Linked DNA regions of Homo sapiens: all the other regions are linked to region 1. Evidence: fine-mapped expression QTL. A gene starts in region 1. Each other region holds a variant in brackets. All regions are shown on one strand. Distances are between the middles of the regions. Region 1 holds the start of ITGB4 (integrin subunit beta 4). Region 2 holds the start of SAP30BP-AS1 (SAP30BP antisense RNA 1). Region 3 overlaps RECQL5 (RecQ like helicase 5). Region 4 overlaps RECQL5 (RecQ like helicase 5). Region 5 overlaps ITGB4 (integrin subunit beta 4). Region 6 overlaps MYO15B (myosin XVB).

Region 1 (5,140 bases):
AGTAAGACTCCATCTCAATGACAACAACAAAAAAAATCACATGCAATATTTAAACTTCTGGGGCCAGTAACCTATTTGGGAATCCAGTGTAAGCTAAGGCTCCCCTCCCAGCAAACCCACATTCTGAAATCAGATACTCCTCAAAGTTTGCACAAGATCTGAGATGGTTCAGGGACTCCCCACTGCCAAGTCCACATGCGGGCTCCAGGTAATGAACCCCAGGACTCCGAGAAGCCAAGGAAGCTCATGGCTTATCTTACTTAGTGAGACCTCCCTGGGTTGACATCTCGCCTCTCAGCTGCTACAGGGCTCCAGGCCCCCTAGTCATTTTCAGAAGGGTTTGCAATGAAGAGAGGAAGGGGCTGCTGAGCCCAGTGGCCTGGGGCATCGCCAGCTCTGGACCTGGGTCTTCTCTAGGAAGAAGCCTCAGCCCCCACCCACAGTGGGGTGTATATGACCCCCTAGTTCTCTAATGGGTGCTGCTGGCAGACCCAGGCCCCTCAGGCAAGCTGTTTTTGGCCGTTCTCTGAGCTCCTGCTCCATGTTTCTGTTTTTTGGGGTGGATAGGTACCTGCTGGAGTGACTCAGGTCCACAGGGCACTTGTGCTGGCCTGACACACACAGATCTGAGTGCTTCAACCAAACTGGGACTCCTTCCACATTGTTCCCAAATCCAGGAGCAAGCCTCTCTGAACACTTTCTCTGTGCAGAACAGCTCTCAGATGACCAGGAAAGGTGGCGACTCACACATTTGCAACCAGCACCCCTGCAATCACTCTGAGAGGTAGCAGTGGAGGAATCTGTTTACAGATGACAGCATGGAGGCTCAGGGAGGCTGTGTGACCATCCCATTCACTCAACCACCCTTTTATTGAGCACCTGCTATGCACCAGGCATGGTGCTAGGTGCTAGAGAGTAGCTGCCCTTGGAGTCACAGTCCAACAGTGTGGCGAGATTCCTAAACATCATTTCAAACCAATGTGGCAAATGCCATGTAAAAGCCATGGCCCAAGGGTTATGGGGACACATAAACCAACTTGGGGTGTGGAGAGGTCAAGGAAGGCTCTCTAGCACGTGGTTGGTGCAACGTCTTCAAGGACAAGAAGGATAAACTGGGCTCAATGTCATGGGAAGGGACCAGCCTGTTGAAAAAGCACGGTGGCTTGAAACCGCATGGTTTGGACAGTGCTGTGCCAGCAGTCTGGTGTTGTTTGGCATTGCTGGCCAGTAAGCCTAGAGAAAAATGGAGCCCTGGCTGGGCATGGTGGTTCACGCCTATAATCCCAGCACTTTGGAAGGCCAAGACGGGTGGATCACCTGAGGTCAGGAGTTCGAGACCAGCCTGGCCAACATGATGTACTAAAAATACAAAAATTAGCCGGGCGTGGTGGCGGGCACCTGTAATCCCAGCTACTCGGGAAACAGGCAGGAGAAGCGCTTGAACCCGGGAGGCAGAGGTTGCAGTGAGCCAAGATTGCACCACTGCACTCCAGCCTCGGCGACAGAGTGAGACTCCATCTAAAAAAAAAAAGAGAGAGAAAACAAAAAGAAAAAGAAAAATGAAGCCCTTCTCTGACCTGAACACCCGTGGTAAGCAGTGGCAATGGAGAGACTGCTCTCAGAGGACTGACGGGAGGGAGGGGCCAGCTCTGTAACCAGCTTGTTAAGAACAACTGTAACAAGGCATCGAGTGCCAATCCATGCCAGGTCGGCACTGACCTCTCCAGGGTATCACTGTTCACACTGTAAGGAGATTTAAGTAGCTTGTTGAAGGGTGCACCGAGGACCCGACCCTTCCTCGGCTCTCCCTCTGGATACAACGTGAGGTTAGGGGTTGGAGGCTGAGAGGACCCCGTGAACTGCAGAGCAGAGCTGGGACGGGGAGTCAGGCCTCCCGACCGGGCCGGGGGCACTCCCTGGGCCCATGCCTCGCGCTGGCACGGAGAGCGGGGAGGGGGGTACGCGGCTGACGACCGTCGGGGCAGCAGCAGCAGCACAGCCCGGCGTTGGCTAGCGGCCCAGAGTCGGGGCAGGGAGGGTTCCCGTGCGGACGGGGGCTAAGAGGCCGCCTCCAGCCCGGGGCAGTCCGCGCACCCGAGCCTGGAGCCCGGAGCCTGGAGGGGTGGGGAGGCCCCGCGCCCAGGGCCGGACCGGAGGGAGAGGGAGAGCGGTGGCTCCTCCCCCGGCCCCCGCCGCTAGCCGATCGGGGCGCTGGGCGGGCGCCGCGGGAGCCGCAGCCCTTTCCGGGGGGCGGACCCGGCTCCGGCGGCGGCACCCAGCTCCTGCCCCGACAGGTGCGCGCCGCGCGAAGGAATGCAGCCGGTCTGACTCACCAGCGCCTCCTTCCTACCTGCGCGCCCGCCCCATAAAGCGCTGCCCGCCTCGTCCCCACCCCCCCAACCCCCGCGCCCGCCCTCGGACAGTCCCTGCTCGCCCGCGCGCTGCAGCCCCATCTCCTAGCGGCAGCCCAGGCGCGGAGGGAGCGAGTCCGCCCCGAGGTAGGTCCAGGACGGGCGCACAGCAGCAGCCGAGGCTGGCCGGGAGAGGGTGAGTGCCCGCCCCAGCTGGGCAGCCGCGCAGGGGAGCTGGTCGGGCAGGGCCGGTGGCTTTTGTCTCCCCTTCCCCTCCCTGAAGGCTGACAGGCCCCGGTCCCTCTGTCCACGCTGCGCAGGACAGGTGCCCAGCCTCCCCGGGGTGCGCCGGGGGCAGCTGGCAGCCAAGGGGCAGGGCAGCTAGAGAAGGGTGGTGCCCATCAGACCTCCAGGCCAGAGGAGCGCCTTGGGTGCGCCTGCGGGAGAAGTGGGCAGAGGCCAGTGGCTGGTAGCCCTCTGGGGCTGGGCCCCTCCAGGGTTTGCAAAGAAGGTGGAGTAGACACCAGCCTGAGTGCTGGGCCCAGCCCATCATGGCGCATCTAATGATAAACCAACATTCCTGACTTTTATGTGAAATTTCGTTCTTTCTAACATTGGCTCCTACTTTTAAAAGCCACCCTGAGAGGCAGACGCCATCCCGGCTCCAGGCAGGGCTTGCTCTATGCGGTGCCACAGTCCATCTGGGGCTGGGGAGTCCCTGATTTTCCTTTTCTCTTGGCCAAGCACAGGCCTGCCTTCCTCCCAAAGTCAGCCCCAGGCGCCTTCCTTCAGGAAGCTCTACAGGCCTCACCCACCAGCCCCAGGGCTGTGCCCAACACTGCCACCTCCTGCAGCATCCGCCCTCTTTCCCATGGCTCAGCCTCTGGGGTGGCCCTCTGGCTGGGACTGGGGCTCTGGGGCTCCTGGTGACTCCCAGGAGCAGGGACAGGGCTTCTCCTCTGCCCCCATGGCCTTGCCACACCCTGAGGACAAGGACCAGGCACAGGTGGCATGGTTGTTGCTGTCCGAAACAGAGCTGGCAGTGAAGGCTTGGAGTCTCCATCCTGGGGGCTGAGGGAAGGACAGCAGGAGGGACAGGAGGGGAGGTATGTCTGTCTACTCGACCCTGATTTCTCAGGGAGACAGAACAGCCAAGGGCCTGGGGTCCCCAGACTTCTGGCCAGCTGCCTCTCTGGGGCGAGGAAGGGCCTGGGTCCCTGAGGGGAGGAGATGTGACAGCGGGAGAGGATAGTGGACAGGAGCAGGTGTGCCCAGAGGGGTCCCCAGGGGTTGGGATGGGGGCCAGGGGAGCTCTGAGCCTGTGGGTGGGTGGGCATGGCCTGTGTGTGTGTGTGTGTGTGTGTGTGTGTGTGTGTCCCTGTGGGGGGGAAACTGCCTGTGCTGCAGTGTGATGGCATTCAGGGTGGCAGTCACACACTCCAGGGACCTGCTGGTACATAAAGTCGGGGCAGCCTGGTGGGGTCCGGGCCGCCTGGAGAGTAGGTGTCCTGAGCGCTGGGCCCAGCCCATCGTGATACATCTAATGATAAACACAAATTCCTAACTTTTATGGGAAATCTCGTTGTTTCTAACATTGGCTCCTACTTTTAAAACTTTCTAAACAAATGAAGCCAAACACTCTTGGGTGCCTCGCCAACCCTCTAACTGCCATTTTGTAGCTTCTGCGTGGAGGCTGCCATGGAGGTTAAAGGCAGGGCCTGCAGAGCAGGGCCCTGTCCTGGCCCTCCCAGTGCTGTCCGCGGGATGGGGAAGTTCCACAGCCTTCTGTGCCTGGTCTCTCATCTGGGAAACGGGCAGAATGAAATCATCTCCCGCCGGGCTCCTGTGCTGAGCAATCTCCTCCGTGAAGCCCTGGGCTCATATGGCAGTCACAGTGTGGGAATCAGCACTGCCTGAGGGGCTGTGGCCAGGGACAGTGGGAGGAAGAGCTGGGCTCAGCTCTCCAGGCCTGTACCTGCCTGTGTAATGATGCCTGGGAGGCCTGAGCCTGCAGCCTGTATTGTGTAGCATGTGGGTGTGGCGGCTACACCCCGAGGCTGCAAGGAAGTCATTTCCCTCTAGGAACCCTGCTGTCCCCACCCTTTCCCTGCTGGCTCAGGGCTGCCTCCCAGTCCCTGTGCCACAACAGGTCTGACCTGCATGTGTTGGCGCTGCTGTGGCCTCCTCCAGGCTGCACGCCTTAGAAGCAGGCTACGCCTTCCTGCCCTTGGCCTGAGAAGGGCTTCTCCAGCACCTCGGGGACCCCAGCCCCCAGACCCTGGGGTGGCCACTGCCCCAGAAGCCGGGCTGAGACAGGATTCAATGGGGAGGGCCCGTGGGCAGGGCAGAGGCTTGGGCCCCTGGGAGACCTGGCCCTAGAGAAAGAGGCGCGGTGCTCACCTTTGCCCCGGCCTTGCAGGCCTGGATGGCTCTGCCGCCAGCCTCTTTTCTTGTCCAGGCTTCAGGCTGAGCATCTCTTAGAGGGCCTCAGGGATGTCCAGTCCTGCCCTGAAGGCCGCTGAGGACTTAGGATGGTTTAATACTGAACCCACAGCCGCTGGGGACGCCTTGAGGGGAGCCACAGTGTGTGTGCATGTCTCACTCTGGGCTAACTTGTGAAAGGGTGAACAGCTCAGGGGCCCAGAAAACTTAACTCTGGGGCAGGCAGAGGTACAGGGGAGGGCAGATGATTCAGACCCCACCCTGATGGGCCGGGCAGTCACTGCAGAACCCAACCCGGTGCAGTAAGCCACTGCGGGCAGCTGTGGCCCAGCCCCAGGCCCCAGATA
Region 2 (5,140 bases), 37 kb before region 1:
ACCTAATCTCATGATGCTAACCATACGACCATTTTTTTTTTTTTGAGACGGAGTTTCACTCTTGTTGCCCAGGCTGGAGTGCAGTGGCGTGATCTCAGCTCACTGCAGTCTCCACCTCCTTGGTTCAAGCGATTCTCCTGCCTCAGCCTCTCGAGTAGCTGGGATTACAGGTGTGCACCACCACACCCGGCTAATTTTGTATTTTTCAGTAGAGATGGGGTTTCTCCATGTTGGTCAGGCTGGTCTTGAACTCCTGACCTCAGGTGATACACCTGCCTCGGCCTCCCAAAGTGCTGGGATTACAAGCGTGAGCTGGGATTACGGGTGCAAGCCACTGCACCCGGCCTCATACAGCCATTTTTATTCTTCTTTTATGTTTGCCTATAATAACATATGTTTTGCATCCAGCTTTGTCTCTATCTATATATAAACATTTTCAATGTTGCTGTACTGTATAATTATAATAGCAATATGACACAAATGAACAGTTAAAAACAAACACTGAAGAATTGTATGGCATATGAGGCTGGGCGCAGTGGCTCATGCCTGTAATCCCAGCACTTTGGGAGGCCAAGGCGGGCGAATCACGAGGTCAGGATATCAAGACCATCCTGGCCAACATAGTGAAACCCCCATCTCTACTAAAAATACAAAAATTAGCCAGACATGGTGGCACGTGCCTGTAATCCCAGCTACTCAGGAGGCTGAGGCAGGAGAATCACTTGAAGCAGGGAGTCGGAGGTTGCGGTGAGCTGAGATCACGCCACTGCACTCTAGCCTGGTGACACGGTGAGACTTCGTCTCAAAAAAAAAAAAAAAAAAGAATTGTATGGTATAGGAGTTATATCTCAATAAAGCTGCTGTAAGAAAAATTTATTTTATTTATTTATTTATTTATTTTTTTTGAGACAGAGTCTCACTCTGTCGCCCAGGCTGGAGTGCAGTGGTGCGATCTCAGCTCACTGCAACCTCCCTCCTGGGGTTCAAGCAATTCTTCTGCCTCAGCCTCCCCAATAGCTGGGACTACAGGTGCACACCACCACGCCTGGCCAATTTTTGTATTTTTTTTAGTAGAGCTGGGATTTCACCATGTTGGCCAAGCTGGTCTCGGACTCCTGACCTCAAATGATCTGCCTGCCTCAGCCTCCCAAAGTGCTGGGATTACAAGCATGAACCATGGTGCTTGGTAAAAAATAATAATAATAATAATAATTTTTTAAATATTCCAAATGGAGATTTTTTTAAAAACCCATTGAGATCTACCAACTTTTGTTCTAGTAGTGACACCAGTCCTTAGCCCCACAGATTTTCACATCATTTCCCTCATTCTCATATTTTCTTCAGCTATATAAGTTAAATCCAGAAATAAGCACGTTACACTAGCAAAATCTGAATAGGTTTTTATAATTGAATGCTATGTCTGCAGTTTCCCTCTAATGAAGTTCTCTGGTGAACAGGAAATGGGCCATGTGCTTTACTTGGGTCAGAAGGAATAACTCGTTCTTTAAGCTCGTGTTCTTATTGGAAGTCCACATGGTTGTTCCCCCAGGAAGGGAGAAGAGCTGGGTAGAGTTCAGGATTTGGTAGCATTTTTTCTGTGAGTCCCCAGGAAGTCTCTAGGCTAAGGACAGGGAGGTAGCACCCACGGTTTGTGTGATTAAGCCTGCAGGACCAACCCTTTCAAACAAGTTAACTCAGATGTGACTCACTGGGGCCCCATGGACTCTAGAGCTGTTTCCCCTGATCGTCATAGGTGAAAGATAATAATTCTGGCTGTCTTCCCTTAAGTCCAGGGTTTTAATACCTGCTTCACTCTGACCTGCTAGAGAATCATTCCTGGAGGGGTGCTTTTCCTTCTTGGTCTTCACTGTTGGCTTACCCAGTGGTTGAACCAACAGCTTCCTAGAAACCGCTACCCTTTGCAGCCTCTTAGTCTAGAGGGAGAAGGTGGGAAGTTGGGAATAACTGGATAACTGGGCTTTTGAGCCAAACAGATTTGGCCTTGAATTTCAACATTGCCATTTATTGGGTGAGCTGCTTCATTGTGTTTTACCTCAGTTTACTCGTGTGCAAAATGGAAATAATAATGTCTACCTCATAGGGTTATTGTGAGACTTGAATAGTGTAGGTTAGCTTGTAGTGGGTTCTACGTTTAGGGTGTCATGTGGGGTGCTATGTGAGTGGGAGAGTATATGCTTCATCCTTCCATCCTGTTTTATTAGTCCACCTGCCCCTGTGTTCTATCTCCCATACCCTGTAATCTTTTGAGTGCTGATTAGAAGGGAACAAAATTACAGTATGACTCACCCAGGACCAGAGAAGGAAATGGCCCTTGACCATTGCTGGTTTGTGAGCCATCCACCACCCTTCTCTTGGAAGTTGTAATGTGGGCCTTGAACTATTGAGAATGCCCAAGCCTACGTAGCATTCGGCACTTCCCTGCGCTCAACACGATGGATGGTCTTCTTTAGGCTTTTCCTCAACAACACTAGGGTTGCCTTGCACAGCTGGGAGACATGGAATTTCCAGAAGCTCGTGGAGTGGCTGTGCTGGGAAGAACCTACCCCAGCCTGAGGTCTAGGGTTCTGGGGGTTCTAGGGGCCTGCTGGGTGATAACCGGATCTGAGCAGGAGTCAGAAAGGCAGGCAGGCCATGAAAGTCACTCTTCAATTGTCGCAAGGGAAGGAAATCCAAGCCTGCTTTGGCTTTGTCCTGCCACCTTCCAAGGAAGGCCTCACTACATCATAAGCTGAACACTGCTGGTAGAAGCGCTGGTAGTTGTTGGAAGTTGTGATCTCATGCAAAGGGGAACAATGACCATTATTCTCCCTCTGACCCCTCCTTGGCTCCATTGCACTGCCAGAGGGGCCTTCTTGATGGCAGTTGATCCAAGTAACCTGAAGCTGAGACTCCCAGAAGCCCCACCTCACTCCTGTGGTTCCACAGCCCACAGGGAGCCACCGCGTGTCTGGTACACCCTCCCATCAGCCGTGCAAGCCCCAACATACCTCCTTCCCTTCGGGCCAGATGCCATGGATTGCTAACTGAGGTGTGGCTGGGCCCCTCCTTCCCCATCTGGGACTCATTT[C/T]TTTGAAATTATATGATACAGAGGACTGCCTGTCCTTAGGGATCCAGCACTTCCGACCTTCGTTCTGTATTTTCATCCATGTCTCCTGAAATGCTGCTGTGTGATTTCTGGGTTCAATAGGATTTTGCTCATTTCTATTCCTAACTTTGGAGTTAGGTAAATATTTTCTGGGCTGTGCTTCAAAGATGCTTGCCTTCTTTTTGGCCCTCTAAGTAACTCAGTCCCCTTCCTACCGGTGTCGATGATGACCAGTTTGCATTTCTGTCACCCTGACTTTCAGGGACTGCGAGTATATTTGCCTGAGATGTTGATGTAACTAACTCCTCAGCTTGTCGGCCAGCCTCTCAGATGGAATGCTTTTGTAATTTGGTAGCCATGTAGAGTTGTGTGCCTTCCAGACTTGCATTCTCAACCTCACAAAGCTGTCTCTTTTGTCCTTGTCTGTCTCCAGGCTCCCCCCAACCCCCCAAATATATCAACCTAAAGCACAGAGATACTGTTCTTGTGGGAAGCCTTGAAGGGAAAAAGCCTGTCCTGGCCTCACCACCAAGAGCTTGACTCAGATCCTTGGTGTGAGGCAAACTCTGGACCTAGATACACCCGTTCCTGACACTCTGGGGATAAGACAAAAAGGGAATGGCCCTCTCTGACCATCTTCTGTAACTTTCAAGAAACCAAAAATCTTGAAGTGTCTTGAATCAAATGTAGATTGTACTTGGAATAGTCGGATAACAAAAGTCCCCCTTGGAAATAGCTCCCTGCATTTACATTGAAGTCTAGTTGGTTGTAACATGTTCCATGTAACAACATCAGGAGCCGTGCTGAGTCACGTGGGCTTTGTAAATTTAGCCAGATTTTTCAAATAGAGAAACTGTTTCCCTTCCTCCTCCCTACCTTGTCTTCAGTCTACAAGGCCAATTCTATAGCCGGCTTAATAAGTCTTGGCAAACTCCTGTTTCACCCATTCCTATAGAAACCTTCTGTGGTTGGGGCCGGGCGCAGTGGCTCACGCCTGTAATCTCAGCACTTTGGGAGGCTGAGGCAGGCAGATCACGAGGTCAGGAGATCGAGACCATCCTGGCTAACGAGGTGAAACCCCGTCTCTACTAAAAATACAAAAATTAGCCAGGCGTGGTGGCGGGCGCCTATAGTCCCAGCTACTCTGGAGGTTGAGGAAGGAGAATGGCGTGAACCCTGGAGGCGGAGCTTGCAGTGAGCCGAGATTGCGCCACTGCACTCCAGCCTGGGCAACAGAGCGGGACTCCATCTCAGGAAAAAGAAAAAAAAAAAGAAAGAAAAAAAGAAACCTTCTGTGGTTGGGAGCAGAGCCTTCCCATCAGCAAGTGGTCTAAGCAAAGGCAACCCCAGCGTGTCCCAGAGGGCCCCACCAACTTCCGCCCATTTTTCTGATAAATTGAGTGTTTCCATTCCCAGGCAGGCAGTGTGCCCACGGCAGTGGCTCAGTCCTGGCCGACAGGATACAACTAAAGGAAATGTGCTAGCAATGGGCTTTCTCCAGGGCTCTCCAGTGGGGGTGGCTGGCATCTGGCCTCTGGGGTGGGATGTTCCCATGCAGCATTGGGTTTGGAGGCTTTGCTGAGCTGTTGACAGCTCTCACTCCTAGCCCCCAACCATGTCTCTGTCAAACCAACATCATTTTATTCTGGAACTTGGAGGTATTTTATAAAGGTAATCCAGCATTGTTGCTTTCTTGGCAACCTGAAGTGACTCACATTGATCTCAGAAAACCTTGTTTTGACTATTACTTTGATGCCTCCACAAGAGGGTTTCTGGAGGATGGCATAGCAGTTGTTCTGAAGCAGCTGTATTGCCTGATGGTTAAGAGCACAGTTTCATGGGACTGTTGTGAAAAATGAGATTCTTAATTGAAGAGCTTAGCATAATACCTAAACTTATTCCCCTAGATTGAGTTTTCATATTTTATCCTCAATGCTTGGCCCATTGCTTGGTGTATAAATCATGCTCAATAAATTATCTGTGGAAAAAATAAATGAATTAACTATACAGTAATTATTTTTGTCTTAGGATTTA
Region 3 (5,000 bases), 68 kb before region 1:
CTGAGATCATGCCACTGCACTCCGTCTCAAAAACAAAAAAAAGTAACAAGGGAGAAAAATATTAAATGACAGTAATAAAGCCATTTACAAAAGTGTCCCCAAACCTGACTATGTATCATAACCCCCAGACTACTGAACTGAATTTTCTGGGATGAGCTTTTGAGAGTTTCCGAAAAGCTTCTCAGGAGGTTCTCATGCAAAGGGCCCACAGACTGGCATTTAGGAAGCGCTATATAATATCACCTATTTTAATAATAGTAAATACACGCACAAATGTTGTGAACTTAACAAATATGAACACATATACTTCTGTGTATATTGGAGGGAGATATATTAAAAGGTTAAGTGACTCTTCTTGATAAGCTTAAAACATGAATTTAAAATACAATTTAAAACCTGTAATCCCAGCACTTTGGGAGACTGAGGTGGGCGGATCACCTGGGGTCAAGAGTTCGAGACCGGCCTTGCCAACATGTTGAAACTCCATCTCTACTAAAAATACAAAAATTAGCCAGGCATGGTGGTGCATGTCTGTGATCCCAGGTACTCAGGAGGCTGAGGCAGGAGAATCACTTGAACCCGGGAGGCAGAGGCTGCAGTGAGCTGAGATCGTGGCACTGCACTCCAGCCTGGGCAACAGAGCAAGACTCCATCTCAAATAAAATAATAAAATAAAATAAAATAATGCTTGACCTGCCGACTCAGAAACCCATGTGGGGTGGGGGTGGGCAGCTGCCAGCTACACCAGGAGAGCAAGATTCCCAAGCCCTTCAGTTGGCACCCAAGGGGCCAGTGTGCACCACTTGGATCACACAACCAGAAAACAGGAGGACCCCAAAGGTTTCCTGAGTCTCTACTTACCAGGGAGGCTGTGTGCGGCCCTGCCAGCTCATGCCTGAGCACAGCATCCCAGATGGGGCAGAGCAGGGTACGGCTGGGCAGGGGAGGTGGGCTCTGGAAGGTGCTAATGGTAGCAGACAGGGTGTTGCCTCCTGCCTGCAGGTAGGGAGCACCCTGAATGAGCGGGCTGAGCTGGGCTGGTCACCAGGCCTGGACCCACAGCTCCTTTGGCTATGGACTAATATCAGAGGAGTGGCTTATGGGAAGTGGATAGCAGGAAGCGCTGAGGCCTGGCTCCTGAGCGCAGGGTAAAGCTGGGGGAAGGAGATGGTACTGTGAAGGCAGATAAAGGGGCAAGAGCCTCAGGTTTCTGTCCCCCACCCCACTTCCCTGGGGCTTTCCAAACCAAAGCCTGCAACTAACTTAAAAGGAAGAAAAAGCACTTAAGTTACCAACAACTACCAAACTCCCCCAAAGCCCCTCTCACAAAATCCAAACTGTTTTCTCATCTCCACTCCTGCCTCCCCCACACAATATAGTTTCCTGTTTTCTTTTTAAAATGTTGCCTGCCACCTCTCCACCTGGGAAACCCAAGGCATGACTGCCGGTTGCTGGTGACAGGCACACAGCAGGCAGAGCCCCATCTTTGGTGGTGGGGCGGAGGGAGGTGGGGGCACCAGTCCCTGCCACATCCTCAATCCGCAGACACTCATCAGCCAGCCTTCCCTTTGGCTCCCACTAGAGGGGAGTAGGGCAATAGCAGGTGGTCCCCACAGCTGAGCAACAACAGCTCCAGGCCTTCCCACCAGGAAGACCTCTGCACCCTTATCCAATTCAAAGTACAGGCTCACCTTGGGCCAGGAACCACTATTAGGTAAGGAATGGGCACTATACATTTCAAATGTGGACACCTGGTCAGGGCAGTGGAACTCTAAAGATGGCAGCCAACTTCCTTCCTTGCCCATTCCTGGAGGTAATTCCCCTCTTAGTGACCGAAGCTCTGGTGCAGCTCTGCTCAGAGACCGTTCCTGGCTTCACTCTGTTATAAGCCTGTCTATGGACTTGTGGCTGAATCAACTAGCAGAATACTGAGCATTTGTGAGTGATGTGATTATTCATCAGCGGCCTTTTTTGTGTACATGTCTATTTGCCAACATATCCTTTTAAAATACTGTGAATTATTTAATACAGAAAAGGAAAAAAAGAGCCCGGGCATGGTGGCTTATGCCTGTAATCCCAGAACTTTGGGAGGCTGAGGTAGGTGGATCACTTGAGGTCAGGAGTTCGAGACCAGCCTGGCCAATGTGGTGAAACCTGTCTCTACTAAAAATACAAAAATTAGCCAGGCGTGGTGGTGGGCGCCTGTAATCCCAGTTACTTGGGGGGCTGAGGCATGAAAATTGCTTGAACCTGGGAGATGGAGAATGCAGTGAGCTGAGATTGCACCACTGCACTCCAGCCTGCACGACAAAGACTGTCTGAAAAACAAAACAAAACAAAACAAAACAAAAAAAAA[A/C]CCCCAAAAAAACAAAAACCAGACACTGATATCTGAGACATCATCTATTGAGTTTCTGCTTTGGGCAGGTAACTCATCCCCACCAATACACACAAATACACACAGATTCTGTACCCCCAACTTCCCAATATGTTTACAACACAATTTCTTATTAAATCCATATTTTCCTTATTATGACTATGTCAACAGAGTTCACAGCTAAACCGAAGTGATTGCATTTTTATATTTCCTGTGATCACATTTCCTTTCTTGTGTAACTGTGTTTCCCCTGAAATAGCTTTGTTTTTCTCCATTTACTTAGATTTCAGTATGTTATTAATTCACCCCTAACTGTCCTAACATAATGAACAATTCATTTCGATAGGAGCCAGAGATGCCAGCTTCCACTTTGATGTTTAGAACCTTCCTTCCTGGAGTCTTCTGCCCCCTAGTGCAATCTGGACCAGTTTTCCCTAGGCCTGGGACACAGCTGTCTTTCCGGACTACTCTCCAATATTGTCCTGTGCCAAGACTTACTCCTGGGTAAGTTTCCATCTTTGCTTTCTAGGTTTACTGCCTCTCTACAATGGAGAACATCCTTTAATAGCTTCTGAGACATGACATACCAGGGGAAAGTTTTTGAAACCTTTGTTATCTGAAGATGTCTTTTTTTTCCTTCAAGTTTCCACATACAGCATTGCATTTTTATTTGTTTATTTATTTATTTTTTTGGAGACAGAGTCTTGCTCTGTCACCCAGTCTGGAGTGCAGTGGCATGATCATAACTCACTGCAGCCTTGAATTCCTAGGCTCAAGCAATCCTCCCAGCTCAGCATCCTGAGTAGCTAGAACTACAGGCGCACATCACCATGCTCAGCTAATTTTTTTTATTATTATTAGTTTTTGAAACAGGGTCTCACTCTGTTACCCAGGTTGGAGTGCAATGGTATGATCTCAGCTCACTGCAGCCTTGACCTCCTGGACTCAAGTGATCCTCCCACCTCAGCCTCTTGCGTAGCTGGAACTACAGGTGCATACCACTACACCCAGCTAATTTTTAAATATTTTGTAGAGATAAAGTCTTGTTACATTGCCCAAACTACTCAAACTCCTGGCCTCAAGAGATCCTCCCATGTCATTCTCCCGAAGTGTTGGGATTACAAGCATGAGCCACCTCACCCAGCCTAACATTTTTAAACATGTCATTTGATAAATTTTTCTGGGAACTTTCTTTTCATATTATTTGCTTTTCATATCCTTTGTTCAAGCGATTTTCCTACTTCAGCCTCCCGAGTAACTGGGATTACAGGAGCCCGCCACCACGCGCGGCTAATTTTTGTATTTTTAGTAGAGACGGGGTTTCACCATGTTGGCCGGCTGGTCTCGAACTACTGGCCTCAAGTGATCCGCTCGCCTTGGCCTCCCAAAGTGCTGGGATTACAAGCATGAGCCCCTGCGCCTGGCCTTTTTTTTTTTGAGACAGAGTCTCGCTCTATCACCCAGGCTGGAGTGCAGTGGTGCAATCTGGGCTCACTGCAAGCTCCGCCTTCCGGGTTCATGCCATTCTCCTGCCTCAGCCTCCCGAGTAGCTGGGACTACAGGCGCCCGCCACGACGCCCAGCTAATATTTTTGTATTTTTAATAGAGATGGGGTTTCACCATGTTAGCCAGGATGGTCTTGATCTCCTGACCTCGTGATCTGCCCACCTCGTCCTCCCAAAGTGCTGGGATTACAGGCGTGAGCCACCGCACCTGGCCTTTTTAATTTTTATTTTTATTTTGAGACAGGGTCTCACTTTGTCGCCCAGGCTGGAGTGCGTCCTCCACTCCATGGTATGATCTCAGCTTACCGCAACCTCAACCTCCTAGGTTCAAGTGATTCTCCCACCTCAGCCTTCCCAGTAGCTGGGACTACAGGTGTGTGCCACCATGCTTGGCTAATTTTTGTATTTTTTTTGTTAGAGACGGGCTTCACTATGTTGGGCCGGATGGTCCTGAACTCCTAACCTCAGGTGATCTGCCTGCCTTGGCCTCCCAAAGTGCTGGGATTACAGGCAAGAGCCACTGCTCCTGGCCCCAGAGCTTGTTTTCTCTTGGTGAGATTTTAGTTTTCTTCATCTAAATCAGTGGTTGTCAACCCTGGCCATATATTCAAAGCAACTGGGGAGCTTTTTTTGGTTTATTTTGAGACCGACTTTCACTCTTGTTGCCCAGGCTGGAATGCAATGGCGCGATCTCGGCTCACCACAACCTCCACCTCGTGGGTTCAAGTCATTCTCCTGCTTCAGCCTCTTCCAAGTAGCTGGGATTACAGGCATGCGCCACCACACCTGGCTAATTTTGCATTTTTTTAGTAGAGACGGGGTTTCTCCATGTTGGTCAGGCTGGTCTCAAACTCCCGACCTCAGGTGATCTGCCCGCCTCAGCCTCCCAAAGTGCTGGGATTACAGGCGTGAGCCACCGCACCCAGCCTACTGGGGAGCTTTTTGAAAAAAACTCGTGTTAACAGCTTGTAACACTTATTCCTAAGTATTTTATAAGTTTTATTGTTGTAAATTAAGTTTTTTTTTTGTTTCTATTTCTAGGTATTTATGGTAATGTGGAGAAAAGCTACTGATTTTTTTTTTCCTTGGCTCTCATCTGACTAGAGAAAAGCTACTGATCT
Region 4 (5,000 bases), 91 kb before region 1:
TAAAAAAAAAAAAAAAAGAGAGCAGGACCCTGCCCTGACCCCCAGAGCAACCCACGGCCATGACCCAACGGCAAGGCAGGCCCCAGGGAGGACGGGCGTGGGGCTGGCCCTAGGCCCACTGTGTTCTGGGGCTCAAACTCCCTGCCTCCCACCCCCACTACACCCACATACCCCAGGCATGGGAGAAGGCAGAGCCCACTCACTCCCCCTACCTTGGAAGCAAACTTGCCCTCCTTGTAGAAAGGGGTGAGGCACTTGACCACAACATTTGCAGCCTCCTTCAAGGAGACGCCAGGAGCGGAGAGCTGGAAGGGGTCTTGAGCCGTGGGATTCAAGGTGCCCTGTTCGCTGGCCGAGACGCTGCCCTTGACCTCAGCTACGACGGAGGGCTTGGCTGAGGGGCGTGGCCTCTTCTGAGGCTGGCTCTCTGGGTTCTCCTGAGAAGGGCCACAGCAGAGGGTCACTCCTGAGCTCCCTTCCACTGGCCTGCTCCCCTCCTCCAGAAGACTGGGTCCCCGCACCAGCTGCCTCTCTCCAGCCCAGCCCATCTGCTGCCAGGTGTGGAAAGAAAGCTGATTTTCCCTGACCCCTTGAGCAGGGCACAACAGCTCCTGGCCTCGCCCACAGCCCTTCTCTCCTCCCCAACAGACTCATCCCTGCCGGCACCTGCTGGGATCGAGGCCGCTTGCCCTTCCATGTGTCCTTTGCAGGGGTGGGCTGGACTTCAGGGGTGCCCTGGTCTCTGGGCGGGCAGGTGCTGGTAGAGGGAAGAGCAGGCATCACAGCACTGGGTCCTGGTGGCTCCCTCATCCCAGGAGGCCTAGGAGAGCCCATCTCAGGGGTGAGCTCTGAGCTTCAGACGCCCAGTGAGCAAAGGGGATGCTGCCGTGTAGGTTCCAGAAGATTCTATGACTACCTGTACCCTTACCTTGGCCTCTCCCTGAGGCACTCCTCAGTCTGGGGAGGGGCAGGCGAATGTCCCCCGGCTCCATCTTCCTCCCCTGTGTACTTCTCTGGGGCCATCGGGGGTCCCTGAACCCCCTCACAGGAGGGGCAGGCACCTTCTGCCTCTGGGGCTGATGCCAGCAGAGCTGGGCTTTCCACCCTTCGGCAGAAGAAGCGGGCGATGCTCTGAGAATCCTTGTGGGCCGCTGTGGCTAGGAGCTGCTGTTTCTTGCTAGCCCGGCCCTTGGCAAGGGAGCTGCCCCCAGAGGAACTTTTTGCCTTCTTCTCAGGGGAGGGCCCCCCATAGTGAGCGCTGCCTCCAGGGACCTCCCCTCTGGGCCCAGGGAGGGGCTCACTCCCATCCTCATCCAGGAGGCCACAGGGCCGGCTCGGGGGCTCGTGCTCGCCTCCCCGCTCGGGCTGGGGGGCTTGCTCCCTGATCCGAGTTGTCTCCATCAGTTCCGTGGCCGTCTGGAACGGGCAGGAGCCTTTGGGGAAACCAGCTCCCACCCGCTTGGGTTTGAGCTGTAAATGTGAGCAGGAGGAGAGGAGGTTCAGCCCACTAGGCCCCCTTGAGGGCACCGCTGGCTGGAGCAGTAACTCACATTGGGACGGGGCTCTCAGGAGTGTGGGAGGGAAGAGGCAGGCAGGACCCTGGTGGGGAGCCAGGCCTTGGCAAGAGGTGCACCCCTGAGGGCAGAGGGGAAGTGAAGCCTTTCCTGGTCACAGGTCTGGAGGCCACTGGGCCACAGCTCACCGAGTACACATGGGAGGCTGGTGGAATGTCATACTCATTGGGCTCCGGGGGCTCAGCTTGGGCACTGCAGCTCTTGGCACTGCCTCCCATGTCATAGGGCTGCCCATCCTTGGAGGCTCTGTGGATATCGGCCACCTGGGCAGGGATAGGCAGGGAGGCTGTGGCACCCGCCAGCTCCTCCTGACATGCCCCACCTAGCCCTCCTTTTCTACTAGGCACTACAAGTGGGTTTCTGTGGCCAGTGGCCACAGGCAACTGACCACTGGGCAAGTTTTAGGCCTCCCATCCTCACAGGGTTGGCTAGAAACATGTCCAGCCAGTGGAGAATGGAGCTCTACCCCCATAAACTGTCTCTGGGGTGGGCTGGGGAGGGTGAGTTCTGGGCTGCCTGAGCCCAGAGAGCTGGCAGACAGCTTCTGCGTCAGAGTATGGAGGGGCCCCTGCAACGACCCTGGGTCCGCCTGCACCAGGCCCACCTTCTTCAGCACGCTGGCCTTGTAGAGGTTGGCCACCTTGGCGTTCCGGAATGTCTCATGTTCCAGCTCCACGGCCTTGGCCCGGAGGTCAGCTCTGTGGGTGCAAGGTAACAGGCACAAGGTATCAGGTGGGCCTGGGCTTCTCCCTGCTGAGCTCTTGCGGGACTCCAGGCCTGGTGGGGTAGGCCTTGGGCACAGGGATTCTGATTAGGGCTCTCTGAGCACCCTGTGGCTTACTGTCCCTCAGCAGCTGCTGGTAGCACCTAAGTTGTAGCCATGCCTGGCCCTGGTGGGGTTGTAGGGGCAGTCCCCTGGAGTAGGAGAGGTACAATCTGGGGAGAGGTGGCCCAAACAGGCCAGGGTTGACAGGGTCCTGCAGTCTCCAAGGGAACGAGAGCTTGGAGTGCTCCTCAGCCCAGTGATCGTGGAACTCACTCATCAGCGGTACGTGTTGACTGGCGGTTGCTGCTCAGCGCCTCCTCCAGAAGCCGCAGGCAGTGCTCCCGTGCCTGGCACAGGACAGTGAGACTGGTCGCATGGCCTCGCGGCTGGGGGAGGGCCCCGGCGGGTGGCTGAGGAGCTGCCCGTCTCTTACCTTCACAGTCAGCCTGGGGATCCTCCTGCTAGAAGCCTCTTTCAGGGGACAGTTCTCATCTGTGGGGGGGGGGGGTGGTCCTTGGTCCTTTCGCTCCACCTTCTGCGCTCTGAGGTCCCCCACA[G/C]CCCGGATGAGAATCCTCCCTCCATGCCCCGGGAAGAGCCCACAAGCCTCCAGGAACATTTCTGTACTGACCTGGGGGTACAAATTCTTCTATCTTGGGGTCTTTGCCCTGGAGGACAACATGAAGGACCCATGAGGCGTCCTGCCCTGCCGCAGGACAGTCCCATCCAGCACCAGAGAAGGGGCTGAGAGGTGCGAGCAGGGGGCCACCAGGGGCCCCACACAGGCCACTGAGTGCCTCCCCTCACCTTGCGCAGCTGCATCTGCTTCTGATAGAAGAGGTTCCACTCCCGCTTGTGGGCCTCATCTCTGCCTTCATCCCCGCTGCCTCCAGAACCTTCGTCATACCTAGGGACAGGCCAGGCGTGAGTGGCCCTGGCCTGGGCTCTGCCCTCCCCATGTGTGCTGCTGCTAGAACGGCAATGTCCCTGATGTCCTACCAGCTCAAGGGGGGATTGCGGCATCGTGCCACCTCTGGTCTGGCCCTGGCGCCAAGGGAATGCCAGGCAATTCCAGCGGGTTGGAGCCCTGGCTTCTCGGCCCCTTACCTGCTGAAGTCCCCGTAGCCCTTGCGGCCTCCCTCATACAGCTCGGGGTCAAAGCCGTTCCCCTGGGAGGGCCCGATGCAGGTCTTGCTCCAGCTGCTGCTGCGCTCCAAGGCCTCCAGCCGCCTCCGCACGGCCGTGGGGTTCTGGCAGTGGTCGCAGCCTTTGGCGCAGGCAGGCAGCGCATCCCCGAAGTACTTGGCAATGGCGGCATGGCGGCACCTGGAGCAGGCAGCACCGCAGAGGTGAGGGGCGGAGAGCCCAGTCGGCCAGCGTCTGTTCACCCGAGCCTGAATCGCTAGCTGAGCGAGCACTGCCGCGTCCGGCACCATGCCGGGAGCCCCACACCCCTCATCTCATCCAAGCTGCACCAGGCATCGTTTGGCTCTCCCCACTACACAGATGAGGACGATAAGGTGAACCAACTTTCCCAAGGTCACGTAACACATGGGGGTCTCCCGGGAAGCAGGATGTGAACCCCACTCTGTCCAGTTACTCCTCTGCTCCTCCCCTCTGTCCTCTGGCAATGGGATGTAGATGCTGGCTCTGCCATGAAGGGTGTCTTTTGGGTGACACACTTCACCTCCTAAAGCCCATGCATTCCCGTCAGTAAGATGGTGCAGAAAGGCACAGCCCTCACGGACTGAGCGAAGATGGCTGAGGTGATGTCTGAAGTGCATTACAGTACAGTCATGCCCCATGGAATGACTGCACAGCCAATGGTGGTCCCCTACGATTCTAACACTGTATTTCTACTGTACTTTTTCTATGCTTATGTGTGCTTAGATATGTGAATACCACTGTGTTACAACTGCATACGGTACTCAGGACAGTAACGTGATGTACAGGTTTGTGGTCTAGGAGCAACAAGCTGTAGCGCATGGCCTGGGTGTGTAGGAGGCTGTGCCGCTTGATATTTTTTTCCTTCTCTTCCCTGGAATTGCTGTTTGATTTCCCTAAGTATACTCTGTGACCGCACAATGACAAGTTAAATTTCTCAAAACGTATTTGCATTGCTAAGGCAGGCACGGCTGTGTAGTAATATGTCCCATCATCAACCCGTGAGGGTGTCACAGGTGGGGCCTTTAGCCAGGGAGACGCAGCCTCGCCTGGAGTCCTCCTCTCGTCTTCCTCTGTCTCAACCCTGCTGCAGCCCTCCTGGGGTGAGCGGCCTCTGCCCATGCTGGGAGCAGGGAGCAGCCTCTGGCTGGCCCACGAGGCTCTGTCGCATCTCTGTTCCCTCTGCATGGGGGTGGCTGTCGACCCTTGGGGCAGCTGCAGAGGCCGCAAGAGGGGCCATAGCTCTCTCAGGCTCCTTATAAACAGCCATTCCTGCCACCAGGAACGTGGCACAGGGTAGGGAAGCCCAAGAGGAGATGCTGGAACACAGGCAGGGCTGTCTGGGGTGCCACATCCCAGGGACAAGAATAGCTGGCATTAACTGCTCTAACTAGAACTCCTCCCAGTGTGAGCACTGCTGCGGCTGCAAGAAGCCCTTTGAGGGGCTGCGACCCCAAGGCGCAGGCTCAAGGATGCAAGGCTGATTGCAACACCCCGGT
Region 5 (5,121 bases), 33 kb after region 1:
TAAAAATAAATAAATAAAAAGGATTATTTTATACATTATTTTATCTAGCAGCCCGAGATCAGAGGTGCCTAGCAGAACAGTTATTTCTCCAGTCCTGGAAGGGAGGCAGGGTGGGCAACCCCTATGCGTGCCCTTGCCTTGTGTGGAGGCACCGTGGATATATGGGTAGAGGTGACATCGAGGCCAACTTGAGTCCAGCCCTGGCTCTGCCACTTACTCAGCAGAGTCCCTTGGAGGACTGGTGACATATGTCCACGCCAGTCATGCTGACGCTCAGGGCTCCGCAGGCGGCAATTCAGCAGTGGCTGGCTTTGCCTTGCTTCCCCAGCCCCTGGGTGCCATCCAGGGGATGCACGGCCGTCCTGCTGTGTCAGGGGTGGTGTTGGGACCAGGCTGGGACCTGGGTGACCCTCTGAAGCACTCTCTCTGCCCCAGGACCTATTGGGCCCATGAAGAAAGTGCTGGTTGACAACCCTAAGAACCGGATGCTGCTTATTGAGAACCTTCGGGAGTCCCAGCCCTACCGCTACACGGTGAAGGCGCGCAACGGGGCCGGCTGGGGGCCTGAGCGGGAGGCCATCATCAACCTGGCCACCCAGCCCAAGAGGCCCATGTCCAGTGAGTGGTGGGCAGGGAGGTGAGGGGCAGACCGGGCAGGGGGGCAGGGGGCAGCAGCCAGGGCCCTGGCTCACTCCCCTGCCCTGCAGTCCCCATCATCCCTGACATCCCTATCGTGGACGCCCAGAGCGGGGAGGACTACGACAGCTTCCTTATGTACAGCGATGACGTTCTACGCTCTCCATCGGGCAGCCAGAGGCCCAGCGTCTCCGATGACACTGGTGAGTGGAGACCTGGGACCCACAAGAGGACAGTGGGGGTCTTGGGTACAGAGTGAGTCCACTGGGTCCAGAGAGGGCAAAGGGGCCAGCAACTAGAGGACATGGAGGTTAAGGCAGCCTTGGACAAATGCAATGGAGTGCACATCTGTGCATGGGGCACAGGAACCAGTGCCTGGGGGACAGACACACACAGCCTTGTGCAAGCGCACATGAGTTCATGCCCACGGGACCACGAAGAAACACAGCTTCACAAGTTGAAGGTTCACCAGCTGTGCCATGCACACAGGACACTCAGGCCACCCCCCAGGGGCAGGCCTGGCCCAGGAGCCCTGGGCAGCCACCAGGCGGCCACCTGGCAGGGGTAGGGGAGCCAAGGAGACAAGAACACCCCCAACAGCTCTGTCCTTCCTCCTTGATTCCCAGCACAAAGTGCTGCGGAGCCCTTAGCTGGGCCTCCTGAGTGCTCAGTGTCAGCTGTGGCTCCACCTGTGGGACATCAGATGAATCACTCATCCTTTCCATGCCTCACTTTTCTGCTCTGTATAATGGGATACCAATCACACAGTACCATGAGTGGAAAAACCTCTGGGGCACGTATATCTTTTGTATTTTCTTCTGTCCCTGCCGATGCCTCAAGCTGCCCCCGGTGAACACATACTGGCCCCCACGGGGCTCAGCTTGGGCTTAAGGAGCCATTTTGAGGGGTTCAGGTGGAGCGCAGCTGGTGTGACTCTGGAACCCCAGCTCAGCTGCTTCTAACACTACCTGCGAAGCGCTCGGTGGCTTGCGGAACGGTCCCTGGGAGGCGGGCAGGGGCAAGATTCCTCTCTCCATTGTACAAACGGGAAACTGAGTCTCGGAGAGGTTAAGTAAAGCAAGGGAGACCTCACAGCTGGTGACAGAGCCCAGACTTCCCCCAGGTTTCTGGCGGGTCCGGGGGTCTCTCCTCCCCAGCTGTGCCGAGGCTGCACTCGCTCATCTGGAAAGGCTTCAGCCGCGCAAGGGTTTCACCTGCCGCGGCCTTCCCGCTCCGGCCGTGCGCATCTACCCCCGCCCCCAACACACACCCCGGGATCCCGGGAGCTGGAGACGGGCTCCCCTCGCAGAGCCTACGGCCTTCCCCCGCCTGGCCCTGCTCGGCCCGGCGCCCCCCGGCGGTGCCAACGCGGCCCTTCGTTGTTCCCAAGGCTGCGGCTGGAAGTTCGAGCCCCTGCTGGGGGAGGAGCTGGACCTGCGGCGCGTCACGTGGCGGCTGCCCCCGGAGCTCATCCCGCGCCTGTCGGCCAGCAGCGGGCGCTCCTCCGACGCCGAGGCGCCCCACGGGCCCCCGGACGACGGCGGCGCGGGCGGGAAGGGCGGCAGCCTGCCCCGCAGTGCGACACCCGGGCCCCCCGGAGGTGACAGGCTCACCCGCCGCCCCCCGATCCGCGCCCACCCAGCCTCACTCGCGCCTGAGGGCCTGGGGTGGGCGTCTGCGCTGCCTCGGGGGCCCCAGTTTCAGCCAGGCCCGGGCCTTGGCGGCTGGGAGCACAGCTGCTCAGAGGCAGGGCCCAGTGCCAGGGGACGCGTGAGGCAGGCGCTTGGGCCCTTATGGTGCCTGCCTGGCCAGGGGGTGCAAATTCAGAAGTCTGCCCGGGAAGCGGACCCTGGCACCCAAGTAGACCCCTCAGGGGCCTCAAAGGACAGGAGGGAAGGCTTGGGGATCTCCCCAGGGCAGAGCTGACTGCAGACGCAGCAAACCCCCGCCACTGCCAGGGTCAGCAGTGCTCACACCGATAGAGTGGCCGGCCAGAGGATATGGGCTGTGGAAGCCTGGGTGGCCCTTGGGCTCCTGCAGGGACAGAGGGCCTCTGTCCCTAGTGGTTTGAGGGAAACTGGTTGTATTTAAGCAAAAGCCACCCAGAGGGTGGGTGACCAGGAATGTGCAGGGCCCAGCCTGCCCCACGGGGCCCGGGTCTGGGGCAGGCCTGACCAAGGGACCCTGCTCTCCCCCTGCAGAGCACCTGGTGAATGGCCGGATGGACTTTGCCTTCCCGGGCAGCACCAACTCCCTGCACAGGATGACCACGACCAGTGCTGCTGCCTATGGCACCCACCTGAGCCCACACGTGCCCCACCGCGTGCTAAGCACATCCTCCACCCTCACACGGGACTACAACTCACTGACCCGCTCAGAACACTCACACTCGACCACACTGCC[C/G]AGGGACTACTCCACCCTCACCTCCGTCTCCTCCCACGGTGAGTGACCTCAGCCAACCCTGCCTCTCCCACTAACCCTTCCTCTCTTCCAGCTCCTGGAGCCTCGGGCTTCTGTCTGCTGTCCCCACCGCCCATTCTCCAACATACACACACGCATGCACACATGCACGCACACACGTGCACACGCATGCACACATGTACACAGACATGCATGCGCACACGTACACACATGCATGCACACTCCCTGCTCCTCTCACTCTTGTTTTGTCCTGCCCTAGGCCTCCCTCCCATCTGGGAACACGGGAGGAGCAGGCTTCCGCTGTCCTGGGCCCTGGGGTCCCGGAGTCGGGCTCAGATGAAAGGGTTCCCCCCTTCCAGGGGCCCACGAGACTCTATAATCCTGGCTGGGAGGCCAGCAGCGCCCTCCTGGGGCCCAGGTAGTACAGGGGTGGCCATCCTGTCTCCACAGCTGTCCTGCTCCATCTGTCATCCAGCCACCATAGCAGCCGCCAGCTGTGCCCACTGCTTCCCCTCCATTCCATCCACAGGACCCCCGCCTGCCCACAGGCGCTAACCACCTGCCCTACCATCAGTGCTGATGCCTAACTCTGCCTCTGCCCTCCCAGGGGGCGGGGCTGGGGCTGGGGCAGGAGAGGGGCCAGGCCAGCTGAGCAGTTGAGGGGGTGGGGCTGGCAGACTCACGGGGCTCACTCTCTTTTGGCACAAGCAGGGCCTGCACCCTGCTGGAGGATGTGCGGTAGGTGCTGGGCAGCCTGGACAGGGTGTTGCAGGGTGAGTGAGTTGTCCAGCCAGCGGTCAGTGTAGACATGCCAGCTGAGGGAGGGAGGTCAGGGGGCAGCACTGTGACTCCCACTGAGACCCTAGCCCCTGCATCTCTGGCTGACTGCGGCCTCCTGTCCCCAGACTCTCGCCTGACTGCTGGTGTGCCCGACACGCCCACCCGCCTGGTGTTCTCTGCCCTGGGGCCCACATCTCTCAGAGTGAGCTGGCAGGAGCCGCGGTGCGAGCGGCCGCTGCAGGGCTACAGTGTGGAGTACCAGCTGCTGAACGGCGGTGAGGCATGGTGGCTGCCAGGCTGCGGGGTGCAGCCCTGCAAGGCCTGGCCCCAGTGTGACACATAGGGTACCTCAGCTGTGTCAGGAACCCACCCAAGTCCCTTGAGCGCTAAAGCCCCCATCCAGCCTGAGAGGGTCTCCCACCCCATTCTCCACCCCACTTCTTTGCCTCCCCTCTTCTGAGGTCTCACCCACCTCCCTGGGCCTCTCTCCTGGTCATTCTCTGCTAGGTTTTGCCTAACAAGGCCCCTTTGGGCTGGGATCCTAGGGCCTCTGCTGGCCTGAGATGCCTTTGGGGGAACAAGGAAGTGGCACTTCCCTGGGCAGGCACATTCAAAGCAGCATGACCAGGATGCAGGATGTTGCCTAAACATGAGTGGGATTACAGGCTCCACTCTTGTATAGTACACAATCTGAACAACCAGCCATACCATACTGTACCCAACCTGTACCCAAACCACAGCTAGTCCTGGGTGGGTGATAACTAGGTCTCGATGGCAGCTTAGGGACGAGGAGGATCAGGCCAGGGGTGGGAGTAACACTGCACTACTGTGTGCCCCCACCTGATCCCCCCAGGTGAGCTGCATCGGCTCAACATCCCCAACCCTGCCCAGACCTCGGTGGTGGTGGAAGACCTCCTGCCCAACCACTCCTACGTGTTCCGCGTGCGGGCCCAGAGCCAGGAAGGCTGGGGCCGAGAGCGTGAGGGTGTCATCACCATTGAATCCCAGGTGCACCCGCAGAGCCCACTGTGTCCCCTGCCAGGTGAGTTGCCTCCCCCAGCCCCAGAGCTGCCCCCATCATGCCCACCACCCACCCACAGGCTGATGCTCTTCCTCTACTGCCCCCAGGCTCCGCCTTCACTTTGAGCACTCCCAGTGCCCCAGGCCCGCTGGTGTTCACTGCCCTGAGCCCAGACTCGCTGCAGCTGAGCTGGGAGCGGCCACGGAGGCCCAATGGGGATATCGTCGGCTACCTGGTGACCTGTGAGATGGCCCAAGGAGGAG
Region 6 (5,000 bases), 120 kb before region 1:
GTTGATGTCCAGCTGAGCTGGGCTGGTGGCTGCCTCAGAAGGGAGGGGGCAGCTACTAGGAGCAGCAGCCTCACCCCAGGGCTCTGTGGACCTCCTTAGCCTGTGATGGCCTTGGCAATGGGGATGGCCTGGTTGGGGGACTGAGCAAAAGGCAGGCAGTAGGGATGGGTGTTCCCAGCCTTGAGTCAGATCCTGAGAAGCTCCAGGGCGGGGCACGTTCTGTCTCTGCCATCTGGAAACCTACCAGCTACAGCAATTGTCACCTCCAACAAGAACCCCTGAGCCCGGAAGCTGGGTGAGAGGAACCTCCAGGTACAACTCTCCACCCAGCACAGACCAGGTCTGCTGATCTGTGCCATTCCCTGATGCACTGTGGCATCCCGTGACCACAGACTGTCACCCACATCCCCAGAACCTGCACGGTGCTTGCTTGGTACAGACTAACTACTGAGTGTCCATTAAGCCAAACTGGTACCACCATCTGGACCTGTGAAATGTCCTTCAACACTCCCCCACCCACCCCTTCCTGCCACGCCCCTCCCTCCCTTCCACGTCCCTCCCTCCCACGCCCCTCCCTCCCTTCCATGCCCCTCCCTTCCACACCCCTCCCTCCCTCCCTCCCACAAACTTGTCTTGAGACCTACTGTGTTGGGTGGCGAGGAGACGAAGGCCTTGGGAACCACATTCCTGTTGCTCCCGTGGCCCAGAACCAGCCCTCATGCCTCCTGCGCACACCATGTTCACCTGTTCTCCCCCTGAGCTCCAGCGCAGAGACCCTCCCTGCCCAAGTTCACTGCAGTGTCTCAGCCCCCAGCTGAGCGCCTGGCATAGAGCAGGCACTTTCCAAATTTTTTAATGATCTAGAAATGAAATAAATACTGAGGGGCTCAGGGTGTCGTACAGCAAGTGTGAAAGGGCTTGGGTGCAGTGGCTCACGCCTGTAATCCCAGCACTTTGGGAGGCCAAGGCAGGCAGATCACCTGAGGTCAGGAGATTGAGACCAGCTGACCAATATAGAGAAACCCCGTCTCTACTAAAAATACAAAATCAGCTGGGCGTGGTGTTGCATGCCAGTAATCCCAGCTACTCGGGAGGCTGAGGCAAGAGGATCACTTGAACCTGGGAGGTGGAGATTGTGGTGAGCTGAGATTGCACCATTGCACTCCAGCCTGGACAATGAGAATGAAACTCTGTCTCAAAAAAAAAAACCAAAAAGGCCGGGCGCAGTGGCTCACGCCTGTAATCCCAGCACTTTGGGAGGCCGAGGCGGGCAGATCACGAGGTCAGGAGATCGAGACCATCCTGGCTAACACGGTGAAACCCTGTCTCTACTAAAAATACAAAAAATTAGCCGGGTGCGGTGGCGGGCACCTGTAGTCCCAGCTACTAGGGAGGCTGAGGCAGGGGAATGGCCTGAACCCGGGAGGCGGAGCTTGCAGTGAGCCGAGATCGCGCCACTGTACTCCCGCCTGGGCAAAAGAGCGAGACTCCGTCTTAAAAAAAAAAAAAAAAGTGTAAAAGGAGGTTCTGGCTATTCTGATCTCAGCTCCATCCTTGGAGCAGCTTCCAGGCCCTGGGGTCAGAAGGGCAGGAAGACCTCTCTGACCGGGAGAAGTGTGGTGCCGTCCTGAGCCAGGTGCTGGGGGCCGAATCACCTCTCTATCACCTTGGAGCCACCAAGGTGGGTGTGTGTATCCCTGTGTGCAGAGGGCAGCATGAATGGGAAAGGAGAGGTGCATTCTGGGCCCAAAGGGACAAACCCAGGATTTGGGGATCCATCCAAGTGGTGGGAGACAGAAGGGCTGGACGGCAGGGCCAGAAGAACAAATGGTTTGGCTGGAAGGGAGGAGGCTGAGACCAGAGGAGGAGAGCAGGAGGGGCTGGCTCCTGGCTCCTGCCTACAGCCCACCCCTCTACCCACAGGTCCTGCTGCAGGAGCAGGGCTGGCAGCGGCTGGAGGAGCTCCGGGACCAGCAGCGCTCCCAGGCCCTGGTCGACCTGCACCGCAGCTTCCACACCTGCATCTCCCGCCAGCGCGTCCTGCCCCGGATGCAGGCTCGCATGCGTGGGTTCCAGGCCAGGTCTGCAGGCGTTGGAGCCAGGGCTGAAGTGGGTGGGGTGAGGCCGTGGGTTCGTCCTCCAGGTGGTGGGGCAGGGTTGGGGAAACATAGGGCCTCAAGGCAAGTCATCCTGCCCCAGTGCCATCTCATCGGCATGTGACTCTCCTTGACGGCATTACCCCCCATACCCGTGCAGCCTCTGCTTGAATACCCCGGCCACAAGAAACTCATTACCTACTGAGGCCACCTGAACCTGTGGTCCTGACTCCTTTATCATTCTCTTTTCTGGTCTGTTTTCCACACTGTGGGAACAATCTTTGTTTTTTTTTTTGAGTTGGAGTTTTGCTCTTGTTACCCAGGCTGGAGTGCAGTGGCGCGATCTCAGCTCACTGCAACCTCTGCCCCCTGGGTTCA[A/G]GTGATTCGCCTGCCTCAGCCTCCCGAGTAGCTGGGATTACAGGCTTGTGCCACCACACTCAGCTAATTTTTTTTTGAGATGGAGTTTCACTCTTGTTGCCCAGGCTGGAGTGTAATGGTGCGATCTCGGGTCACTGCAACCTCCACCTAACAGGTTCAAGTGATTCTCCTGCCTCAGCCTCCTGAGTAGCTGGGATTACAGGCATATGCCACCACGCCTGGCTAATTTTGTATTTTTAGTAGAGACGGGGTTTCTCCATGTTGGTCAGGCTGGTCTCGAACTCCCGACCTCAGGTGATCCGCCCGCCTCAGCCTCCCAAAATGCTGGGATTACAGGTGTGAGCCACCGTGCCCAGCTACAGTCATCTTTTCAAAGCATGAATCATGTTGTTAAGGACCTGACTACCTCCCCAGCCCAATTTAGGCCAGACTTTTACCCTGCAGTGACTTTAGACTTCTCTTTCCTATAACACCACCCTCCCACTTCTCACCTAATCATCTCTTTTTCGCCCTCACAGCCTGTCTTCACACATTCCTCCAACAGCTGTTGGCTGACCGTCTGCCTCATCTACCCTTGGGCCAGATGCTGGTGACAGAGCTGGGGATGCCAGAGACGGGGCCTCCCAGGCTGGTTGGGAAGTCAGATTCAGATGGTAGAGCAGCCAGTGATCTTCCCAGAGAGTAACTCGAGGGCTGAGAATGAAGTGAAGACAGTGCAGAACATCGGGGGAGCCAGGCATCTCCACTATCTATTTCCAACACGTTTTCATCCCGCAAACAGAAACTCTGGACCCATTAAGCAGTAACTATTGCCCCCAAGACCCCCAGCCCCTGGTAACTTTCAGTCTACTTGAGTCTCTATGAAGTTGCCCATTCTAGATACTTCCTGTAAGTTGACTCATACAATATTTCCTTTTACGACTGGCTTCTTTCACTTAACATAATGTTTCAAAGTTCATCCATGTTGTAGCATGTGTCAGAAATTCATTCAGTTCCAGGCTTGAGGGTTAATAATTAATTATTATTATTATTATTATTATTATTATTATTATTTGAGATGGAGTCTTGCTCTGTTGCCCAGGCTGGAATGCAGTGGCTCGATCTCGGCTCACTGCAACCTCTGCCTGCCAGGTTCAAGCAATTCTCCTGCCTCAGTCTCCTGAGTAACTGGGATTACAGGCACCCACCACCCGCCACCACGCCCGGCTAATTTTTCATATTTTCAGTAGAGACGGGGTTTCACCATGTTGGCCAGGCTGGTCTTGAACTCCTGTCTTCTGAGTCGATCCACCCGCCTCAGCCTCTCAAAGTGCTGGGATTACAGGCGTGAGCCACTGCACCCGGCCTGTTCTAGTCTGTTTACAAATCTTTGGGGTATAGGCCAAGGAGTGAAAGTGCTGGTAATTCTATCATATGGTAATTCTATGTTTAACTTTCTGAGGAGCTGCCAAATTGCTTTCCATAGTGGCTGCATCATTTTATGTTTCTACCAGCAATGTACAAGGGTTCCAGTTTCTCTACATCCTTGCCAGTACTTATTCTTTTCCATTTTTAAAATCATAGCCCTGCTAGTGGGTGTGAAGTGGCATCTCATTATGGCTTTGATGTGCATTTCTCTAGGACTAATGACGTTGAGCATCTCAGACATTAGTGCCACTCCTTTGGAGAAATGTCTGTTTCTCCTCTGCCCGTTTTTAGTTTTTAATTAATTAATTAATTTTTGAGACAGAATCTCGCTCTGTCACCCAGGCTGGAGTGCAGTGGCGCCATCTCAGCTCACTGCAACCTCTGCCCCCTGGATTCAAGCCATTCTCCTGCCTCAGCCTCCCGAGTAGCTGGGATTACAGGCACCTGCCACCATGCCCAGTTAATTTTTGTGTTTTTAGTGGAGATGGGGTTTTACTATGTTGGCCAGGCTGGTCTCGAACTCCTGACCTCAGGTGATCCACCTCAGGTGATCAGCCTCCCAAAGTACTGGGATTACAGGCATGAGCCACTGCACCCGGCCTTTATTTTTTATAATTATTATTTTTTATTAAAAAAATTTTTTTGAGACAGAGTCTTGCTATATCATCCAAGTTGGAGTGCAGCTGGGTCACACCTGTAATCCCAGCTCCTCAGGAGGCTGAGGCACGAGAATCACTTGAACCTGGGAGGCGGAGATTCAAGTGAGCCGAGATCGCGCCATTGCACTCCAGCAGCAGCATGATCTCAGCTCACTGCAACCTCCAGCTACTGGTTTCAAGTGATTTCGTGCCTCAGCCTCTGGAGTAGCTGGGATTACGGGCATAGGCCACCAAGCCCGGCTAATTTTGTTGTTGTTGTTGTTTTTCTTTTGAGATGGAGTCTCGCTCTGTTGCCCAGGCTGGAGTGCAATGGCTTGGTCTCAGCTCAATACAACCTCCGCCTCCTGGGTTCAAGCGATTCTCCTGCCTCAGCCTATGAAGTAGCTGGGACTACAGGCACCTGCCACCATGCTCAGCTAATTTTTGTATTTTTAGTAGAGACAGAGTTTCACTATGTTGG

What was found. PIP is the estimated chance that this variant, and not a neighbour inherited with it, causes the effect.
Region 2: its variant is fine-mapped to the expression of ITGB4 in whole blood (TOPMed, PIP 0.98).
Region 3: its variant is fine-mapped to the expression of ITGB4 in whole blood (TOPMed, PIP 0.97).
Region 4: its variant is fine-mapped to the expression of ITGB4 in whole blood (TOPMed, PIP 0.98).
Region 5: its variant is fine-mapped to the expression of ITGB4 in T cells (TOPMed, PIP 0.98).
Region 6: its variant is fine-mapped to the expression of ITGB4 in whole blood (TOPMed, PIP 0.91).

The regions. Positions count from the first base shown.
Region 1 is chr17:75,719,066-75,724,205 of GRCh38, forward strand. It overlaps ITGB4 (integrin subunit beta 4), which reads left to right and starts at 2,394. Exons shown (of 40, transcript NM_000213.5): 1 at 2,394-2,547. RefSeq lists silencers at 1,957-2,016, 2,027-2,416 and enhancers at 2,137-2,675, 2,676-3,214, 4,129-4,680.
Region 2 is chr17:75,682,158-75,687,297 of GRCh38, forward strand. All of the region lies in intron 3 of SAP30BP (SAP30 binding protein), which reads left to right. SAP30BP-AS1 (SAP30BP antisense RNA 1) reads right to left here and starts at 2,642. Exons shown (of 2, transcript NR_186496.1): 1 at 2,308-2,642; 2 at 1,386-1,621. The variant C/T (reference allele first, on the strand shown) is at 3,089.
Region 3 is chr17:75,651,571-75,656,570 of GRCh38, forward strand. The region is part of intron 7 of RECQL5 (RecQ like helicase 5); the gene reads right to left. It overlaps LOC107985013 (a long non-coding RNA gene), which reads left to right. Exons shown (of 3, transcript XR_001753017.1): 2 at 2,721-2,878. Among named protein-coding and RNA genes, the nearest start is that of ERLN, 7.8 kb to the left of the region's middle. The variant A/C (reference allele first, on the strand shown) is at 2,357.
Region 4 is chr17:75,628,006-75,633,005 of GRCh38, forward strand. It overlaps RECQL5 (RecQ like helicase 5), which reads right to left. Exons shown (of 20, transcript NM_004259.7): 9 at 3,445-3,663; 10 at 3,145-3,244; 11 at 2,969-3,005; 12 at 2,774-2,832; 13 at 2,614-2,687; 14 at 2,179-2,272; 15 at 1,703-1,837; 16 at 929-1,470; 17 at 667-757; 18 at 213-437. Among named protein-coding and RNA genes, the nearest start is that of SMIM5, 2.9 kb to the right of the region's middle. RefSeq lists an enhancer at 4,501-5,000. The variant G/C (reference allele first, on the strand shown) is at 2,898.
Region 5 is chr17:75,751,739-75,756,859 of GRCh38, forward strand. It overlaps ITGB4 (integrin subunit beta 4), which reads left to right. Exons shown (of 40, transcript NM_000213.5): 31 at 436-618; 32 at 708-839; 33 at 2,027-2,236; 34 at 2,838-3,077; 35 at 3,963-4,112; 36 at 4,691-4,879; 37 at 4,966-5,121. It also overlaps a transcript of GALK1 not described here. Among named protein-coding and RNA genes, the nearest start is that of GALK1, 11 kb to the right of the region's middle. RefSeq lists silencers at 1,832-2,441, 3,649-3,818 and an enhancer at 2,029-2,802. The variant C/G (reference allele first, on the strand shown) is at 3,040.
Region 6 is chr17:75,603,941-75,608,940 of GRCh38, forward strand. MYO15B (myosin XVB) reads left to right here. Exons shown (of 64, transcript NM_001395058.1): 20 at 1,564-1,681; 21 at 1,924-2,081. Among named protein-coding and RNA genes, the nearest start is that of MYO15B, 19 kb to the left of the region's middle. The variant A/G (reference allele first, on the strand shown) is at 2,475.